Linked DNA regions of Homo sapiens: region 2 is linked to region 1. Evidence: fine-mapped expression QTL. A gene starts in region 1. The other region holds a variant in brackets. All regions are shown on one strand. Distances are from middle to middle. Region 1 holds the start of UBE2L3 (ubiquitin conjugating enzyme E2 L3). Region 2 overlaps UBE2L3 (ubiquitin conjugating enzyme E2 L3).

Region 1 (9,822 bases):
GGGAGTGGGAGTGGGGATGGAGAGAAGACAGGCAGAGAAGAGAGACTGAAGGCATAGTTCAGCAGAATCCGCCAGGTGACTAGACAAGGGAGGAAGAGCCGAGAAGGGCTCCGCTGGCGTTTTTTCCTTGAGCAACTGAGTAGACAAGTGAACCATTAACTAAGGTGGGACAGGAGGAGATGCATGGGGCCAGAGGGAGAGAGTCACAGGAGGAGCTAAGACTCAGATGCCTACAGATCTATGTGCCGTTCCCAAGAAAACTCTGGAAGTGGTTGGAGTCTGGCTCAGGAGGAACGTCTCTGTGGCTCTCTAATGTGCACAGTGTGTGCAGTGTGTGTGCAGTGTGAAGCTGCAAAGAAATGTGGCTCTCACATTTACTGCTGTAGCAAAGAATATAGAAATATCTTAAACGTAATAAATGTTCCAATAAAATGAGAATACTTTCAAGTGTCCTCTTATAATAAAATTTTAAAGCAACAGTCTCCTAATTTAGAGTTTTAACAAGATCAGAAAAGGCCCCAGTACCCTGAGACAAGAGTTTTTGTCTCAGGGTTTTCTTTTTTTTTTTTTTTTTTTGAGACGGAGTCTCGCACTGGAATGCAATGACACAATCTTGGCTCACCGCAACCTCTGCCTCCCGGGTTCAAGCAATTCTCCTGCCTCAGCCTCCCGAGTAGCTGGGATTACAGGCACCCACCACCACGCCCAGCTAATTTTTTGGATTTTTAGTAGAGACGGGGGTTTCACTATGTTGGCCAGGCTGGTCTCGAACTCCTGACCTCATGATCCGCCCACCTCGGCCTCCCAAAGAGCTGGGATTACAGGTGTGAGTCACCACGCCTGGCCTGCCTCAGAGTTTTCTAGTAAATACCTTAAAAGGTCCCAAATGTTGCAATAATTGAGTATACTCCTTCCCATCACCTGTCCCAAACATTTACAAAGAATACCATTAAGGGAGGCTGAAACAGTCCCAACTTACTGGAATGCATGAATTTAGAAAAAAAGACGCAACGTTTTTCTCAATTCACAAAGCCTCAGTGGATTCAGGACATTTACACTGGCATAACATCACATATAAAACTCCCCTCACCTCCTGAAACATGTGACATACTCATTGCTCTATCTCCTTAATCACCCAACCTCAGAATCTAAACCTATACTCAAAAGCAAACTACCTCACTGCTTAATACAACGAAACCCAAGGAATGAACTTTTAGAGGTTCCTCCTACTATGACTATGAACTGGGAGAAAATATAACAATATGAAGTTCTGAGTGAACATTTTTAAATAGCATTAGGCTGGGCGCAGTGGCTCACACCTGTAATCCCAGCACTTCGGGAGGCCTCGGCGGGCAGATCACCTGAGGTTAGGAGTTAGAGACCAGCATGGCAAACATGGTGAAACCTCCTTTCTAATACAAAATTAGCAGGGAGTGGTGGTGCACACCTATAGTATCAGCTACTTGGGAGGCTGAGGCAGGAGAATCGCTTGAACCTGGGAGGCAGAGGTTGTAGTGCACAGAGATCGTGCCATCGCGCTGAAGCCTGGGCAACAAGAGTGAAACTCCTTAACTCAACAGTTATGTCATGATAAGTAATAAGACATTACACACACACCCCTCTAAATCCACAGATTTCCCCTCTGAGAAAAGCCCTTCTGGGAAGCTACTCAACAGGAGGGCCCTTAGGGGAAATGTGTGCAGTGTGAAGCTGCAAAGAAATGATCAGATGGCAATCAGTTGCCTAAGCCACACATAAAGGTTTCACTTTTGGCTTTTGCAGCAATTTCCCCATCCTGATTGAAGCAATGGTTACAATCTGGTTGTAGCCAACAATGCTAAATTAGCTGCTTGCAAATTAAAATGTACTTAATGTTTTATTAACACTGTAATTCCTAAAAAGGCTTCTAAAAGAGGTTAAGCCTCCTGGCAAGTGCTTTTGAAATAAAAGACTTTATCATACTCACTTTGCCTAAAATAACTTCTCAGTGTAGTATATGTAAATCACTCTACTTTTAATAATGTGTTTTACACTATCTGCAGACAGTCCATTGTTACAAAGAAATCTTTGCTGTGGAATGTCCTAGAAAACATTTTTAACAGAAATCTAAAGTTCTTTAAGATGTAATTAATTTGATCATTCAACATTTGCTAGATTGCTATGCCTAAGGCACTGTTCCATGCACTAAGCCCCAACTTTTCACCAACGAAAATCACTTTATTACCACCCTATGTACTGAAAAGACTGTTTATCAACTTGTATCAATAATTTTTCTTCCTTTAAAAGAAAAAAAAAACAGTCTTAAACATTGATTCTCACAGCCAATGATCAGCATTACATAACTGGTGTTCCCCTAGTGAACTGAAAGCCTTTCCATCCTCAACTTAAGAAACAACACACCGCTCCATGCAGCCTTTGAGTAAGAAAGACAGCCTGACAAGAGGCATGGAATTTGGATCCTGGAGCCAGGAAGAGTCAGCGTCTTCTCTCTCCCCACCACGTTCCACAATTCTACCTTAGGTAACTCCCTTAACCTACTTAACCTCACAATGTCCTCATTTATAAAAAATACAAATGACAATACACTAACTTTGAGTGTTGAAAAGATGACTTACGTAAATAACCTAATACTTAATAAATACTCAGTTAATGTTACAATTTTTTTCCAAGGTCTGTTTTTTTTTAGAAACAGAGTAATAATTTTAAAACCATAATAAGTCCCCTCTTAGACCCCTGAGAGCCTGGAGATTCCAAACTGGGTCAACTGGGATAGGCTAGGGGGCTACCAGGATGAATTAGGTCAAGATCCCTGCCCTTCGGGATCTCAGAACCCAGTACAGGAAAGACAAGTCTGTAACACAAAGAGATTGTGACAAGTGCTCAAAGAGAAATATAAAGAAAGCGCTGTGGTCACACAAAGGAGGAAACAACACATTCTGAAGGGGGATGTGGGAGCACGGGCTCACAGAGTAGTTGGCACTGGAGTTGAACCTGGGACTTCTCTGGAAGGGAGAAGTGAGGAGAAGGCAGCTTTTCTTGGGTAGAGCAAACAACACGTGCAAAGGGACATCAGACAGCAAGTAAGAGCAGGAGACTTTGCTTTGGAGAAAGAACCGAATTCGATCACAACTCACTCTCCCTAGCTAGGTAACCCTGGGCAAGCCAAAGAATCTTTTCTCATCGACAAAATGGAAATCACAATGTCTACTTCACAGGAAGGATTAAACATGATCATGCATATAAAGCACGAAGTAAAAGCTGGAAAAATAGTAGCTACTGTGATTAGGTGCAAGAACTGTGGGAAACCAAAGGGCAGGAGGTGAGGCTCAAGGGATTGCTTTCAGCCAGTCTCAGAAAGGTCCTGCATGCCAAGTAAGAGGTTAGGATTAACTGCTGAGGACAATAACACCATAGAGGTTTTTAACAGGAGTGAAAGAATTGAGTTATCTGCTTTAAAAGAACTCTGGTGTCCGTCAGGGGTAGTCTGGGGAGGAGAGCACTTGGGAGGGCACCTGAGAGATGAGGATATAGATTCAGAGTAATTTCAGTAACATTAGAAAGCAAGGCATGCACTCCAGAAATCTTTTTTTTTTTTTTTTTTTTGACATGGAGTCTCACTCTGTCGCCCTGGCTGGAGTGCAGTGGTGCAAACTTGGCTCACTGCAACCTCCACCTGCCGGGTTCAAGCGACTCTTCCACCTCAGCCTCCCGGGTAGCTGAGATTACAGGCAAATGCAACCACGCCCAGCTAATTTTTATATTTTTAGTAGAGACAGGGTTTCACCATGTTGGCCAGGCTGGTCTTGAACTCCTGACCTCAAGTGATCCGCCCGCCTCGGCCTCCCAGGAGTGCTGGGATTACAGGCGTGAGCCATCGCGCCCGGCCTGCACTCCAGAAATCTTTCTAAATTTAAATCCACAAGGGTTAATGGACGACTGCACCTGGGAGTAGGGTAGGAAAGAAAGCCATTAACCGACCCCTTATCTGGTGAATGGTGGTGTCACTAGCTTAAGAGATGAGGAGAGGTCTGAAGTCCTCTGACTGTTCTTTTGTGCCCACTTCCACTCCAGTTTTATAAAGTTAATGTCCTCTCTAGCCCTTAGGGAACAAAAGAAAGGAAACGTTCCCAGGGACGGAGGGAATGCTCAGAGACTGTGGCTCCAAGTTCAATGTCTAGCTCTACCAAGCACTGCTCCGCCTAGAACGAACCCCAGCTCTTTATCTCCCCTCAGGAAACTGGCTCCTGGGCCTTTTTTTAATTTCCGGCCCGTTGCAGGCCGGCAGCACTACCCAGCCGCCGACTCACAGATGCTGGCGGGGTGGGCTACAGAGGACCTTGGCAAATCCACTGGCAAAAGTACTAAGCCAATTTAGCATGTGTTCCTCACCAAAAGGTGCCAATTAGCGAGAAAGCACCCTGCTGCATTCAAGATCCAAAGTACCAAATTATTATTATAAACTTTGGCCCGTTTTGATTCGAACGACTGAAATCAACCGTTATCCCCCCAAAAATGGCACTTTATCAGGGAGGGGAGATCGGGATGACTGAGTGGAGGAGAGGGAAGCAGAACCGCGCCGCGATCGGGGCCGACCTCAGGCCTTCCTGGAGTTGGAACTTACCCGCTGTGTGACTCTGCAGTCACAAGGCGACAGTTTGCTAGGACCCAGCGCAATTCCAAACGACCCACCAACAAACTGACCTAACTTTGGCCGCCTGGCCTCCTTCTCTCTTTCCTAGCCCGAACCTCCCAGACTCCCGAGCTGCGGCCGGGCCAAGCGGAGCTGCAAGCCCGGCGCGCTGCGGCCCAGGGCGGGGCGGTTCCGCGGCGCGGGCTCCGGGCAGGGGCTCCGGCGCTCGGGCCTTCCCCGAAGGCGCCCGGTTTGGAGCCTCCCAACCGGGCTCTCACATTAACGACGCCCTCAGATCGGACCGCGGCCTCCGCGACAGGGGGACGCGGCCAAGCTCCGGGCGGAGAGTGGCGTGAACGCCCCGGGCCGGGCTGAGGGGCCGACAGCGGCTCCCAGCGCGGCCTTGCGCTCCCGCCCAGGCTGCGGCCTAGGCCAGCCCCGTTAGCACCTTGAGCCTGCGCGCGGCCCAGGGAACCGACGAGGCCGTGTAGGGCAGGAAGCCAGACGGCAGCGCCCTGAGAAGCCGCCGCCTGCCTCGGGGATCCGGAGCCTAGGACGCCGCCCCACGCCCGGCCGCTGCCAGAGAATGGCTTTTACCTTCATCAGCCTCCTGCTGGCCGCCATCTTGGATTTGGTGCTGCTCCTTCCCCAGAATGCATCGCGGCCGGCCGGGCGGCTGGAGCCCCCGCACTTCCTGGAGCGGGGGAGGGGCCGCGGGGCGGGGCACAGGAGCAGAGCGGAGCACCTACTGTGTGCTTCCCACTGTGCTGGGGGGCGCGTGGAGGAACGCAAGTGAACCGCACAGACTGGGCCTCAGCGTTTACGGATCGTCCAATCAGATGGCAGTTACAACCAGTGCCTGGCACATAGTAGGAGCATAATAAATACTGATTGCATAAAATAGTTGACCAGGCGCGGGGGCTCACGCCTGTAATCCCAGCACTTTGGGAGACCGAGGCGGGTGGATCACGCGGTCACGAGTTCGAGACCAGCCTGGCCAACGTGGTGAAACTCGGTCTCTACTAAAAATACAAAAAATTAGCCAGGCGTGGTGGCGGGCGCCTGTAATCTCTGCTACTCAGGAGGCTGAGGCAGGAGAATCGCTTGAACCCGGGAGGCAGAGGTTGCAGTGAGCCGAGATCTTGCCACTACACTCCAGCCTGGGTGACAGAGGAAGACTCCGTCTTGGGGGAAAAAAAAAAAGTTGAATAACCAAGGTTACTTCACACTGCCAAGCTCTGTGAAGAAAACTGGGTGATAGGAAAGTGACTGTGGGGACATACTTTGAGAGGTCAAGGAAGCCAAATTGAGGAAATGGCCCTACTAAGTGCCAGACCTCTCTCTAGTGCTTTATTTTCTTTAACCCTTGAAACCATCCTCTGGGATACGTTAGCATTAACATCCTCATTTCACAATAAACAGAAGCACAGAAGAAGCCAGTGACTTGCCCAAGGTCACACGGCCAGCTAGGAGCAGAGCCAGGCTCCTGTCACAGGTGGGCTGCTGGCTCCAAAGCCAATGCTGGGACCTGGAAAATGGGAAGGAACAGCTGGGAGGACTGGAGGAGAATGTTTCAAGCAGAGGAAGCAGCACTGGCGAAGACCATGAGGCTGTCTCAGTGTCCAGAATGGAGTAAAAGGATTATAGGGTGGGAGGGAGGCAGGGGACAGACCATGGAGGGTCTTGTAGAAAGGGGAGGAGTTGGTTTCTATTCCATGTGCTGTGAGAGGTCTTTGATAGATATGAGTATTGACTCCATGGTCAGATGATTTTTTTTTTTTTTGAGACAGAGTCTTGATCTGTCACCCAGGCTGGAGTACAGTGGCACGATAACAGCTCACTGCCGCCTCGACCTCCTAGGCTCAAGGGATCCTCCTGCTTCGCCTCCCAATTAACTGGGACTACAGGCACGTTCCACCACACCCTCCTAAGTTTTTTTTTATTTTTTGTAGAAATGAAGTCTCACTGTCTTGCCCAGGCTGGTCTCAAACTCCTGAGCTCAAGCAGTCCTCCCGCCGCAACCTCCCAAAGTGGTGGGATTACAGGCATGAGCCACCACACCTGGGCTGAGACGCATGTTTTAAAGAGTACTTTGGGGCTTGGCACAGTGGCTGATGCCTGTAATCCCAGCACTTTGGGAGGCTGAGGGGGGTGGATCACTTGAGGTCAGGAGTTTGAGACCACCCTGACCAACATGGTGAAACTCCGTCTCTACTAAAAATACAAAAATTAGCCAGGTGTGGTGGTGGGCGAACGTAATCCCAGCTACTCTGGATGCTGAGGCAGGAGAATCGCTTGAACCTGGGAGGCAGAGGTTGCAGTGAGCCAAGTCCGCGCCACTGCACTCCAGCCTGGGCGACAGAGTGAGACTCCATCTTAAAAAAAAAAAAAAAAAAAGGAGTACTCTGATTGGAAAATGGGGAATGGAGGTGGGTAAGAGGATAAGAAGGGGAGCAGGGGCCACTTGGAAACCGGTTGCAATCATTCAGGCAAAGAGGTGACAGTGGTTTGGACCTCAGGTAGCAATGCAGAGAGAAGAACATAGCTTCAGAATATACTCAGACCTTCTTAAGGAGTTTTTCTCTTTTTTTTTTTTTTTTTTTTTTTTTTTTTTGAGACACAGTTTCACTCTGTCACCCAGGGTGGAGTGCAAAATGGCATGATCTCAGCTCACTGTAACCTCTGCCTCCCGGGTTCAAGTGATTCTCCTGCCTCAGCCTCCTGAGTAGCATAGATTACAGGCACCTGCCACCATGCCCAGCTAATTTTTGTATTTTTAGTAGAGACAGGGTTTTAGCATTTTTGGCCAGGATGGTCTTGAACTCCTGACCTCAAGTGATCCACCCACCTTGGCCTCCCAAAGTGCTGGGATTATAGGTGTGAGTCACTGGGCCTGGACATTTTTCTCCATTTCTAAGAACAGTGGGTTTCTCCTGAAAGGAGAGAAGGAAAGGGAACTGGAAATAATATATCCTGGGGCCGGGTGTGGTGGTTCACACCTGTAATCCCAGCACTTTGGGAAGCCGAGGTGGGTGGATCACGAGGTCAGGAGATTGAGACCATCCTGGCTAACACGGTGAAACCCCATCTCTACTAAAAATACAAAAAATTAGCCGGGCGTGGTGGCGGGCGCCTGTATTCCCAGCTACTCGGGAGGCTGAGGCAGGAGAATGGCGTGAACCCGGGAGGCGGAGCTTGCCGTGAGTGGAGATAGCTCCACAGCACTCCAGCCTGGGTAACACAGCAAGACTCAGTCTCAAAAATATATATATATAGATATATATATCCTGGAATAAGGCTGGCCTCACACTCATCTTGGGAGCCCAGGCTTGACACGGTAAAGGAGGGAGAAACTAGATGACAAGCCTCATGTGATCAGCGATTCTGCCTGCCTTTTACCTCCCCCAAGGCCAGTACACTGAGTGTTCAATACACATTCAGCGTATGCATGAGGGACCCCATCAGATCTCTAGGGTCATGGTGGGACTTAGAAGTCTGGGACTGACTCTGGGGTCTACTGTGAGCACAGAACCTGCCCTTACTGGGCCCAGGACAAATAAAAAACATAGCTGTATTGGGAACTGCTTTCCTCTGTGGAGAATTACGGAGGAAGGGGACGCTTACGCTGAGAAATTCCAAGCCAGTTGAGGAAGCACAGTTCATACCTTTGACCCGGATGTGCTAAGCTGAGAATACAGAGTGGGATCATCAGAGGCTCAATGTCAAGGACTAGCCTTTGCCATGGCATCTTCTTACATCCTCACCGCTGCCTGCAAGATGACTCCCTTGCACTTTGCAGGTGGGGAGTCAAGCCGCTGAGCTACAAAGTGCTTTTACTAAACAAGCACTCAGGAAATGTACCCAGTCCCAGTGGAAGGGCTGCCTGGCCTTTGGGGTCCCTCTCCTGCTCTAAAACCTTCATTGCTCCCTCTAGCAGGCCTGGCTTCTAGTCATACCCGATCCCCTCCACTCAGCCAAACCTTGTTCATACAGACCTATCCTTTCTGTGCCATCTGCCCAAGCCTCCCATCAGAAGTAACCTTGTGGTGACTCATGCCTGTAATCCTAGCACTTGGGGAGGCCAAGGCAGGAGGATTGCTTGAGCCAAAGAGTTTGAGACCATCCTGGGCAACATAGGGAGACCCCGTCTCAACAAAAAATAAAAAAAGAATTAGCCAGGTGTGATGGCCAAGTAATTCTAGCTACTTGGGAGGCTGAAGTGAGAGGATCACTTGGGCCCGGGAGAGTGACACTACAGTGAGCCGTGATCGTGCCACTGCACTCAAGCCTGTGTGAAAGAGTGAGACCATGTCTCAAAAAAAAAAAAAAAAGAAAGAAAGAAAAGAAAAAGAAGTAGACTTTTTTGGCTGCGTACAGTCTCACACCTATAATCCCAGCACTTTAGGAGGCTGAAGCGGGAGAATTACTTGAGGCCCGGAGTTCAAGACCGGCCTGGGCAACATAGAAAGACTACCATATCTACAAAAATAAATAGTCCAGGTGCAGTGGCTCACACCTGTAATCCCAGCACTTTGGGAAGCTGAGGCAGGCGGATCACAAGGTCAGGAGTTCGAGACCAGCCTGGCCAACATAGTGAAATGCCGTCTCTACTAAAAATACAAAAATTAGCTGGGTGTGGTGGAGGGTGCCTATAGTCCCAGCTACTTGGGAGGCTGAGGCGGGAGAATCGCTCGAACCCGGGAGGGGGAGGTTGCAGTGAGCCGAGATCACACCATTGCACTCCAACCTGGGTGACAGAGTGAGAGTCCGTCTCAAAAAAAAAAAAAAAGTATTAATTTTTTTTTTTTGAGACGGAGTCTCGCTCTTCGCCCAGGCTGGAGTGCTGTGGCGCGATCTCGGCTCACTGCAACCTCCGCCTCCCGGGTTCACGCCATTCTCCCGCCTCAGCCTCCTGAGTGGCTGGGACTACGGGAGCCCGCCACCACGCCTGGCTAATTTTTTTTTTTTTTTTGGTATTTTCAGTAGAGATGGGGTTTCACTGTGTTAGGCAGGATGCTCTCGATCTCCTGAGCTCGTGATCTGCCCGACTTGGCCTCCCAAAGTGCTGGGATTATAGGCGTGAGCCACCACACCCGGCCAGTAATAAATTTTTTTTTTTTTTTTTTTGAGACGGAGTCTTGCCCTGTCGCCCAGGCTGGAGTGCAGTGGCGCAATCTCGGCTCACTGCAACC
Region 2 (9,822 bases), 55 kb before region 1:
TCTTTCAAACTTGGGTGGTTTATCAGCTGTGCCCAGGAGACCCTCAGAGAAACAAGCACGGACAAAGAGCAGCTCCCTCTTGGCTCAAACCACTCCAGGAAATGGCCCATTCTCCATTCTGGTTTTGTTCATGCTGCAATTTTCTTTATTCCTTTTTAGGGTGGGAGTGGGAGATTGTCCTCACCAGGCTGCTTTGGAAGAGGCATAATACTATAATCTCAGTATTGATTTAAGAAGTCACCTGTAGGCTGAGTGTGGTGGCTCACACCTGTAATCCCAGCACTTTGGGAGGCCGAGGCGGGCAGATCACCTGAGGTCAGGAGTGCGAGACCAGTCTGACCAACATGGAGAAACCCCATCTCTACTAAAAATACAAAATTAGCTGGGCATTGGTGGTGCATGTCTGTAATCCCAGCTACTGGAGAGGCTGAGGCAGGAGAATCGCTTGAACCCGGGAGGCGGAGGTTGTGGTGAGCCGAGGTCGCGCCCCTGCACTCCAGCCTGGGTAACGAGCGAAATTCCATCTCAAAAACAAAAGTCATCTGTTTAGATGTAAGCCATTCTACGGGATAGGCGTGAGGAGACCCTGCAACCCTGTGGGAATACATTTAAATTTTTCTAGGAGGAGCAGTCTTCCCGGGAAATGGGATACCATGGTTCCTAACTTCTGGCAATGTAGGGATGCCCTGTGGACTGGGGCCGCATGTGGCTTAGCTGAAAGCTCCTGAGGTGCAGGAGCAGATGGGGAAGGCAGTGCGAGTCCTCTAGAGCACAGAGTCCTTCTGCACCACTCCGCAGGATGGAAAGGCAGATGGAATACCATGTGGTCCTTGTCTCATTTCATGAAATAGCATCTATGAGGCAGGCACCGATGTCCCCATTTTACAGGGGTAGAGGCAGGAGTGGCAGAGCAGGGCTTTGAAACTACTCATTCATTTATTTAATGTGCACTGGGCCCTAGCCTGGGCCAAACATGGAATCAGGGGCCAAGAGAGCTCTCATCCAGCCTAGGCAGCTTGGAGAGACGTGTGGCTTTCTGAAGGGTGAGTGTGGGATGTCGCTCCTCCTTCCTGCTTCTACCCACTCATGGCCCCATCCCCTTGACTGTGGCTTCAGTCCCTTTTTCTGGCTCCACACTCGTCTTCCATCTTGACCTTCACTAGACTTGGACTCTCCCATCTGCAGCACTTTTCCTGCTTTCTTGCACCCATGCTTGTGAGCTGGAATCACTGTACAGTTGCTCCTCCTGCTGCCTAGCCTCCACCTCCTCGCCTCAGCCTGCTGAGATCTGGCCACACTCCTGCAGGCTGCTGGCTAAGGCTGGGAGAGGGGTGGCCTGAAGTTAGCCGGGGATACAGACGTAGCTCCCTTGAGGGGCTTCTGTTATGGAAGTGTTCTGAGAGGAGGAGGCAGCTGGTTGTGCAGCTTTAGGCTCAGGAGAGGTGTGGGTGGGCAGGAGAGACCTGGGGGTCTGCACAGATGCTATATGAGTGGCTACTGTCACTCAGGGAGGGAAGGAGGGATGAGCAGAGTCGACAGCAGCCCTGGGGACCGTGAGACTTTTTTTTTCTTTTTAAAGACAGGATTTCATCCTGTCACCCAGGCTGGAGTACAGTGGCACAATCACGTCTCTGCAGTTCTCCACCTCCCCAGGCTCAGGTGATCATCCCACCATGGCCTCCTGAGGAGCTGGGAGCACAGGCATGCCTGGTTCATTTTTGTATTTTTTGTAGAGATGGGGTTTTGGCATGTTGCCCATGCTGGTCTCAAACTGCTGGGCTCAAGAGATCTGGTCACCTTGGCCTTTCCTAAAGTGTTGGAATTAACAGGCATCAGCCACAGCAGCCGGCTGACCATGAGCATTTGAGTGAAGTGAAGCCAGGCACAGTGGCTCACACCTATCATCCCAGCACTTTGGGAGGCTGAAGTGGGAGGATCACTTGAGCTCTGGAGTTCCAGACCAGCCTAGACAACATACTAAGACCTTATTTCTGTTATTTAAAAAAGAAAAAATAATGGCTGGGCATAGTGGCTCACGCCTGTAATTCCAGCACTTTGGGAGGCTGAGTCGGGAGGAAGGCTTGAGGCTAGCAGATTGAGACCAGACTGTGTAACATGCCAAAACCCTGTCTCTATAAAAAATACAAAAATTAGCCGGGTGTAGTGACACAAGCCTGTAGTTCCATCTACTCAGGAGGCAGAGATAGGAGGATCGACTCAGCCTGGGAGGTAGAGGCTGCAGGGAGCAGTGATCATGCCACTGCACTCTAGCCTGGGTGACAGAGTGAGCCTGACTCAAAAAAAAAAAAAAAAAAAAAAACTGAAGTGAGGGGGCATAGACTGGTAGGATAATCAGGCCCACCTGATTATAATGAGGCCCATCTCACGAGGAGGTGAAAGTGATAAGGACCTGTTGGGGTGGTGACTGGTGGGCCACAGGGGCTGTGGGGGCAGCAACAGTGTCTTAGCCAAGCGGTTCACTGTTATCCGCCCACTCGGCATTCGTGTCTGGAGGGTCCACTCTGTGCTAGGCCAGGGCTGGAGCTGACATGGCCTGGTCTGCAAGGAGCTCCCAGTCTGGTACATACAGGGACAGTCATCCAGTGTCATCCAGTGACACACAGAGGAAGATGTAGGAGAAACCCACGGCAACATGTGGAGCCACAGGGGGGTTTCTGAACCTGGCCAGCACCGGGTGGGGAATGCTCTCTGGAAGTGACTTCCTTCCCAAGGCCTCAGTTATCGCCTCTGCACGGTGGTCCTTTCTACTCTGATCCTCTGAGGCCTCCAGGGTTCCCTAGGGGCCCTCTATGAACAAGAACACGTTCCAATAATCTGGGAAATGGCCACTTACCAGGCATGGACCAGGCTAGGCACTGCACTGCACTGGGAGCAATGGTACCCTCAGCTCCCCTCTGTTCTGGGTTGGTGCCCGGTTCCCCCATGCCATATCCAGGAAGCAGAGAGAGAAGGAAGAGCCAGGCAGGACAGGGTGGGAAATGCTGAGAGCAGCTCTGGCTTCTTTCAGGGCTGGGTTAGATGGCACCAAATGAAAGGAGAAGCAGCAAGGGGCAGCAGGTGACAGAAGTCAGGCTGCAGCGGGTACAGGAGTGATGAAATGGATGCTTATTTCATGCTGAACAATTAATAGTGAACAAGGCCAAAAATGGTGGCTGGTGGCTGTAGGGAAGAGGAAGTTGACAGAGGGGCTTAAAGGTCTCTGGCTCTGGGGAGGGTGGTAACTGGCTGTTTCTGGGCTCAGAGGGACCCTGTGGGAAGAAATATGCCAAATGGTGGAATGCAACAGGCTCTGCAGTCAGAATGTGAACAAAAACAGGCCAGGGGTCTTGGTTGTCTTTAAAAGCAGGGATAAGGATGCCACAGGGCTCTCCTGAGACTCAGAGGGTAAAGTGCTAGGTATGTTAAAGGCTAGTAAAATGACACCCCAAGAAGTTTCCTTCCCCAAGACCTGCAGATCCAGCTGAACAGTGCAGGCCTAGTCTCAGCTGGTGTCAAATTCCAGGCAGGGAAGGCCTAGCCAAAAAAGTCCTGGGTCTGGCTGAGCCCTTGCTGAGTTAGCACCACTGCCGCAGCACCCTGGCAGTGGGCTGTACTGGGGACTCAGAGTGTTTCTGGCTGGCACCATTCATGGACATGGCCCAGCTCCACCCACAGGCACACCCTTATCAATTCTGTGACCTCTTGGGACCGCAGGTTTGCCTCTTCTAAACATGGATTGTTAACACTCCCAGGAGGCTCCAGGATGACCCACGCATGTAAGTGATGCACCCACACTTTAGTCCCTGTCCCCTCAACGAGACGCCCAAGAGCGCCCTCTGCAGGCCCCGACTGTCTGAAGTCTCCGGCTTTCTTGCTGATTATACCTCATCTCCTTCCCTCTAGGGAGGCAGGAACACTTCTATGTACCTCTTTTGGAGAGGCTGGGAATGGGGAGAGAGATCAGAAGCCCCAGGACCTGGGCCCCAGCCAGCCCTCCCATCTCCAAGAGCATAGGCCCCTGGCACTGCCCGCTCCCAGGAAGGAAGAAACCCACACGACTAACCAGTGTCTGAGAGCATTTTTATTACGGGCAGCAGAACGGGATCGCAGCATCTTAGAAAGCCTATTCTCTGCCGTGGTGGGGAGTAGGGAGCAGAGGGAAGGACCCAGCACACTTCAAGAAACCAGGCGGGTGTGAATTCCTGAGTGAGCTTGGGGCAGCAGTGGGTGGCTGCTCCACAGCTCGCCCCTCCTCCAGAGGACCCAGCTTTTTGGTTTTGGAGCAGCCAGGGCTGTTCGCCAGCTTGCTCAGAGCCTACCCTGAAGGCATGGCTGGCAGGAGCAAGCCGCCCAGGCCCAAAGGAGAGACACCCACTGGCTCGAAAGCCAAGCCTCTGCTGACGGGGCCAACCCTGGGGTGCCAGTGCCAGGGCTGAGAGTCCCTGAGGGGCTGCCGGCACACAGGTATCCTCCCGTGATGAGCAGAGTGCAGTGAGGGGTTGACAGGCAGGCAGAGCTACGTTGGCAGAAATACGAAGCAATGGGACAGTTTCCAAGAATGGCAACATTTCTGGATCCAGAGAAGCAACAAGAACAAATGGTGGCTTGTTTGGATAGCTGACAGAATTTGGCATTTTATTACAAACTGGAGTGTGAGTGAAATAAAATCCATCATCACTTTTCTGCTAATGAAGACAGATGTGGAAACGCCAGCCCGGTGCCCTTGCCATCCCGGGCACAAGGGAGTCTCCAGAAACCTGCCCTTGGCGTACCTAGGACAAAAGAAGCCGAGTTCGTGTACACACCGCAGGGGCCATGCGCCTGAACAATGTTAGGCTGCCGAACCTGCCCATCACTCCCCACTTCTGCACAGACCAGACCAAGCTGTCTTACACGCCTGTAGGCCCCGGAAAGATCTCAAGTTATAGAATTAAAATTAAAACAAAAAGCAAAGTTTAAGTCATCTTCTCCACAGGATCTAGTCCCCCCCAAGAGCCAAGAAGGGAAGCCGCCAGTGGCAGAAGCGGGGTTGGTGACACACGGCATTTGGATCGTCGGCTTCCTTGGGGTGTCAGAGCGACATGGATTCTCTACTAGTGCGGGGACAATCCCATTTGCCTTGAAAAGACATTAATATTCAAATCTTTACAAGTTTATCTGACGATAAATTCTAAGGTCAATTTTTATTTCTACAAAAAAAGGCAGTCAAAACAATATAAAACACATTGAAAGGATATTACTGAGTGAGCTTCAAGTGGAGCTTGACTCTGCAAAGGCTGTGAGTCCGAAGGGAGAGGAAGTCCGTCTTGTTCCCGGGCTGGGCTGGCTGCTCTGGAGGAGGGGGTCAGCAGGGGCCCAGGCGACCCCAGACTGGTGCTTTAAATAGCCGAGTCCTGCTAATTCCAATCCTACAAAGGGTCAAAGTGTGCCGAGGGAGGGCTGTGGCAGGGCC[A/G]CTGCACGGAGGAAGTGGAGAGCAAGCTCCGTGGCACATTCGGATGAAGCTCGGTGACAGATGAGCTAGGAGTTTCAAACGGACATTCTGGCTGTAGCTTTGCCTGCAAGGACCAGCAGATCTTCTACAATGGCTGCAGGGAGAAGTGCCAACCTGGGACCTCAGGAGCCTTTCTGGCGAGATTCATCACACACAGTGTGCACAGCATCCTCCTGACTAGCAGGCCCCCCATTTCGGGGCCACCACAGACCTGTGATTATAGGGCTTCTCTGTGCAGGCCAGGCCAGAGGTCAGTTACACACACTGACATCAGGGCTTGCCCAATTAACTGATGTTACTGTGGTAACATCAGCTGGAGTTTCACACAAGAACTGAGGAGAAGGACTGGAGGAGGGGTGTGGCTGTTTGTTTTTAAATTTTTTAAAAGGATGTTATAAACTGGAGTCAGGAGAATTTAAACCAACTCCCACACTGGGCAACAGTGCCACACATGCTAAGAAAAGCCACCAGGACCGCCAGGGCAGTCTCTTCTCCTTTGTGGAGGCGAGCCCGGGGTCTGGGGAAGTAAGTAAGTGAAAAATAAACTCGGTGCCAGAAAGTGGGAGTGGCAAGGGTAGGGAAGAAAGGGAACCACAACCGTTTTTTTTCCTTTTTTTTAAACCTTATGGGTTAAATGTAACTTGAAGATTTTGGATAAAATTGGACAAGAAAAGAAACACCATTCTTTTGAAGTAGATTGAAGCAGTGATTTTTAAAACAAAGAGAGCAGAACTAGAACATCTTAAATTTTTAATCCTTTCTTTACAGGTTACCTAGACCACTTTTGATTAAGAAAACTGTAGAAAGTTAGTAACTGCCACAAGCGAACGCCAGGCGGTGGCACGTGTCAATTTCCACAGAGTCCTGCTTTGCGGGGTGTCTGAATGCACTGCACGGGGTCTCTGCTCACACTTGCTGGAACCAATCGTGGCAGATTTTAGTCCACAGGTCGCTTTTCCCCATATTTCTTTGTAAACTCTTCAGCATTCTTACAGAATTTTTTACGGTCCTTAGAGTATTCTTCAGCTAGGTCAGCCCGAAGCGGGTGCTCAGGCTGGGGGTCATTCACCAGTGCTATGAGGGACTGGATTACTGCCAAGAGAAGGACAAGGCATGGGGGGTTAACACAGTCTCAGAAATGGCACAGGCAAGAGGCAGCTAATCCGGGAACAAAACTCTGGCTTTACAACTGATTTACAGCTAATGTGCTTTTAAGCCAAAGCTGCCTCCTATTTATCCAAAATTCTGACTGCCAGAAAACTCATCTTTCCTCTGTGATTAGAAGACACTGATGGACAACAAATAGCTAACACTACAGTGGATAATTGTTCACAGTGATGTGCTTCCGCCTCCAGGAAGCCTTCCTGACCTAACACCTGGGGAGGTCTTAGCCCTCAGTCACTCCCAGCCCTTTTTTCTTGGCGGGGGGTTGGGGAGGAGGGACAGGGTCTCACTCTGTCACCTAGGCTGCAGTGCAGTGGCACCATCTTGGCTCACTGCAGCCTCAACCTCCTGGGTTGACCTCAAGCAATCCTCCAGCCTCAGTCCCCCAAGTAGCCAGGACTACAGTCGTGCACCACCATGCCCGGCTAATCCAGTCCTCTTGTGTACTCTGGAGATAGGAGGCCTAGTATTGAACTGACTGCTCACTCTCATGCATGCACACAGGGTCACTTTCTTCAGGGCAGGACCGGGTAGAACTTCCCTGCATCAGCCCAGCACCCAGCACCATGCTCGGCTCAGGGAAGTTTCGGTTAAGGTGACTGAGTGGGCACTAGAGAGAAGGGTATGTGATGGCGCTGCACTTGTCAATGCGCAATGACCCAACTCTGGAAGACCCTTAGGAGTTTCTGAACCCTCTAGAAAGGGTCACTGGGGCCAGCCAATGGGAAGCTGACAACCGCCATCGCATCACATTGTCAAGACCACAGGCAGATGTCACGCTGATGGCTCTGATGGGTGCCACAGTACTCCCCCTAGGTGCCGTAGCCCAGACGTGCCCCAGGGTGGAAGGATAGTGGGGAATCAGAAGCAGCTGCTACCCACACCTCCTCACATACTTTGCCACAGTTGCCCCCTGACCCTGTCAGGACCAGCACCCTCAGAATGTTCCTTCCCACTGTAAAACAGTGCCCCTCTTCTCCGAACTGCTGATGCCACAAATTCCTTCTTATTTTTTTTAGACAGTCTTGCTGTCACTCAGACTGGAGTGCAGTGGCTCAATCATACTTTACTGCACGGTACCCTCAAACTCCTGGGTGTAAATGATCCTCCTGCCTCAGCTTCCTGAGTAGCTGAGACTACAAGCACATGCCATCACGTCCAGCTAATTTTTTTTTTTAACCTAGGCTAGAGTACAGTGGTGCAATCACAGCTCACTGCAGTCTTATCTCCTGGGCTCAAACAATCCTCCCACCTTGGCCTTGAGAGTAGTTGGGATTACGGGTGTTAGCCACTGCTCCTGGCCTAGTTTTTTGTAGAGATGGGGTCTCACTATGTTGCCCAGGCTGGTCTCAAACTCCTGGGCTTGAGTGATCCTACCGCCTCATCCTCCCAAAAGTGCTAGGATGACAGGCATGAAGCCACTGCACCTGGTCAATTCCTTTATTAAGGGCTCATATTGTTCATTCAGCATTACAAGAAATGGATTAAAATGCAAATGCTAGCCAGGCAGATCACCTGAGGTCAGGAGCTCAAGACCAGCCTGGGCAACATGGTGAAACCCCGTCTCTACTAAAAATACAAAAATTAGCCAGGCATGGTGGCCCATGCCTAGAGTCCCAGCTACTCAGGAGGCTGAGGCAGGAGAATCGCTTGAACCCGGGAGACGGCAGTTGCAGTGAGCCGAGATCGTGCCACTGCACTCTAGCTTGGGCAACAGAGCGAGACTCTGTCTCAAAAGTAAATAAATAAAACAAAATGCTGATGCTGGCTGAGTCATATGCAAAGGCATAATCATTCAACAGCACACATTAAGTGAGGGCCACAGCACAAAGTACTCCTGGCCTGGTGTCCAAAACCCACCTGCCTAACCTCTGCTTTTTACTGTGCCTGGTGAGAATGGGAAAGAGAGGGCTCCTGTGACCACAGTGGGTAGAGGTGAAGCAGTGGGGCAGAGGCGAGGAGGGCATTGCGCATGCAATGCTGACAGGTTCCACGTTTGTTGGGGGTGGATGGGCAAGGAGGGTGGACTGTGAACAGCAAGCAGGGGCAAGGGGCCTGGAAAGCTCTCTGCAGGCCAGGGTGGCCTCTAATTCAGTCTCTAAGCCTCTTCAGGGGTAGGTGGTATCACCTCCCTGTACAAGCCACCTGTACCTCTAGAGGCAGCAGGCCCTGGAGGTATATTTTTATTTAATAAACATTTATTTATTTATTTAATAAACGAAGCCCACCCTTGGCTGACTGGCCACAGTGTATTTCAGTGCACACCACCCTCGGTGTGAGACTGCTCCCTTTTCCTGGCTGTTCTTGACTTCAGGGCTGGAAATTGAGCCACAGTCGCCTAAGAGCACAAATAGGTGGCTCCCCTTCCTTTCCCATGATTAGAAATGGCCCTGTAACAGGAGAATTACTACCGCATTAGCATTTTAGAAACCTCACTGGGCTAAGGACAGGCTGAGTACTTCGTTAGGGGCACGCTCAGGAGTTTTCACCTCACTCTCTGATATGAATACTTAGGCTCTCTACTTCTCACTATCATCACCTTGGTAACTAATGCAGAGGTTGGTGGCTCACACCTGTATTCCCAGCACTTTGGGAGGCCAAGGAGGAAGGATCACTTGAGGCCAGGAGTCTGAGACTGGCCTGGGCAACATAGCAAGACCTGGCCTCTACAAAAAATAAAAAATAAAATTAGCCGGTTGTGGTGGCACATGCCTGTAGTCCCAGCTCCTTGGGAGGCTGAGGTGGGATGATTGCTTGAGCCCACAATATTGAGGCTGTAGTGAGCTGTGATTGTGCCACTATACTCAGCCTGAGTGACACAGCAAGACCCTATCGCAAAAAAAAAATAATATATATATATATTTTTTGAGATGGAGTCTCGCTCTGTCGCCCAGGCTGAGTTAGTGGCACAATCACAGCTCACAATCTCGGCTCACTGCAAGCTCCGCCTCCCAGGCTCATGCCATTCTCCTGCCTCAGCCTCCCGGGTAGTGGGATTACAGGCACCTGCCACCATGCCCGGCTAATTTTCTGTAATTTTTTAGTAGAGACGGGGTTTCACCGTGTTAGCCAGGATGGTCTCGATCTCCTGACCTCGTGATCCACCTGCCTCCGCCTCCCAAAGTGCTGGATTACAGGCGTGAGCCACTGCACCTGGCAAAATAAAA

The links.
Region 2: its variant is fine-mapped to the expression of UBE2L3 in whole blood (TOPMed, PIP 0.98).

What each region holds. Positions count from the first base shown.
Region 1 is chr22:21,563,177-21,572,998 of GRCh38, reverse strand. It overlaps UBE2L3 (ubiquitin conjugating enzyme E2 L3), which reads right to left and starts at 5,285. Exons shown (of 4, transcript NM_003347.4): 1 at 5,228-5,285. The coding sequence starts at 5,254. RefSeq lists an enhancer at 2,956-3,025 and silencers at 4,832-4,971, 5,222-5,461, 6,104-6,291.
Region 2 is chr22:21,618,276-21,628,097 of GRCh38, reverse strand. UBE2L3 (ubiquitin conjugating enzyme E2 L3) reads right to left here. Exons shown (of 4, transcript NM_003347.4): 4 at 4,064-6,583. The coding sequence ends at 6,429. It overlaps YDJC (YdjC chitooligosaccharide deacetylase homolog), which reads left to right. Exons shown (of 5, transcript NM_001017964.2): 5 at 1-9. Among named protein-coding and RNA genes, the nearest start is that of YDJC, 6.8 kb to the left of the region's middle. RefSeq lists enhancers at 1-242, 4,353-4,886 and a silencer at 2,446-2,714. The variant A/G (reference allele first, on the strand shown) is at 5,453.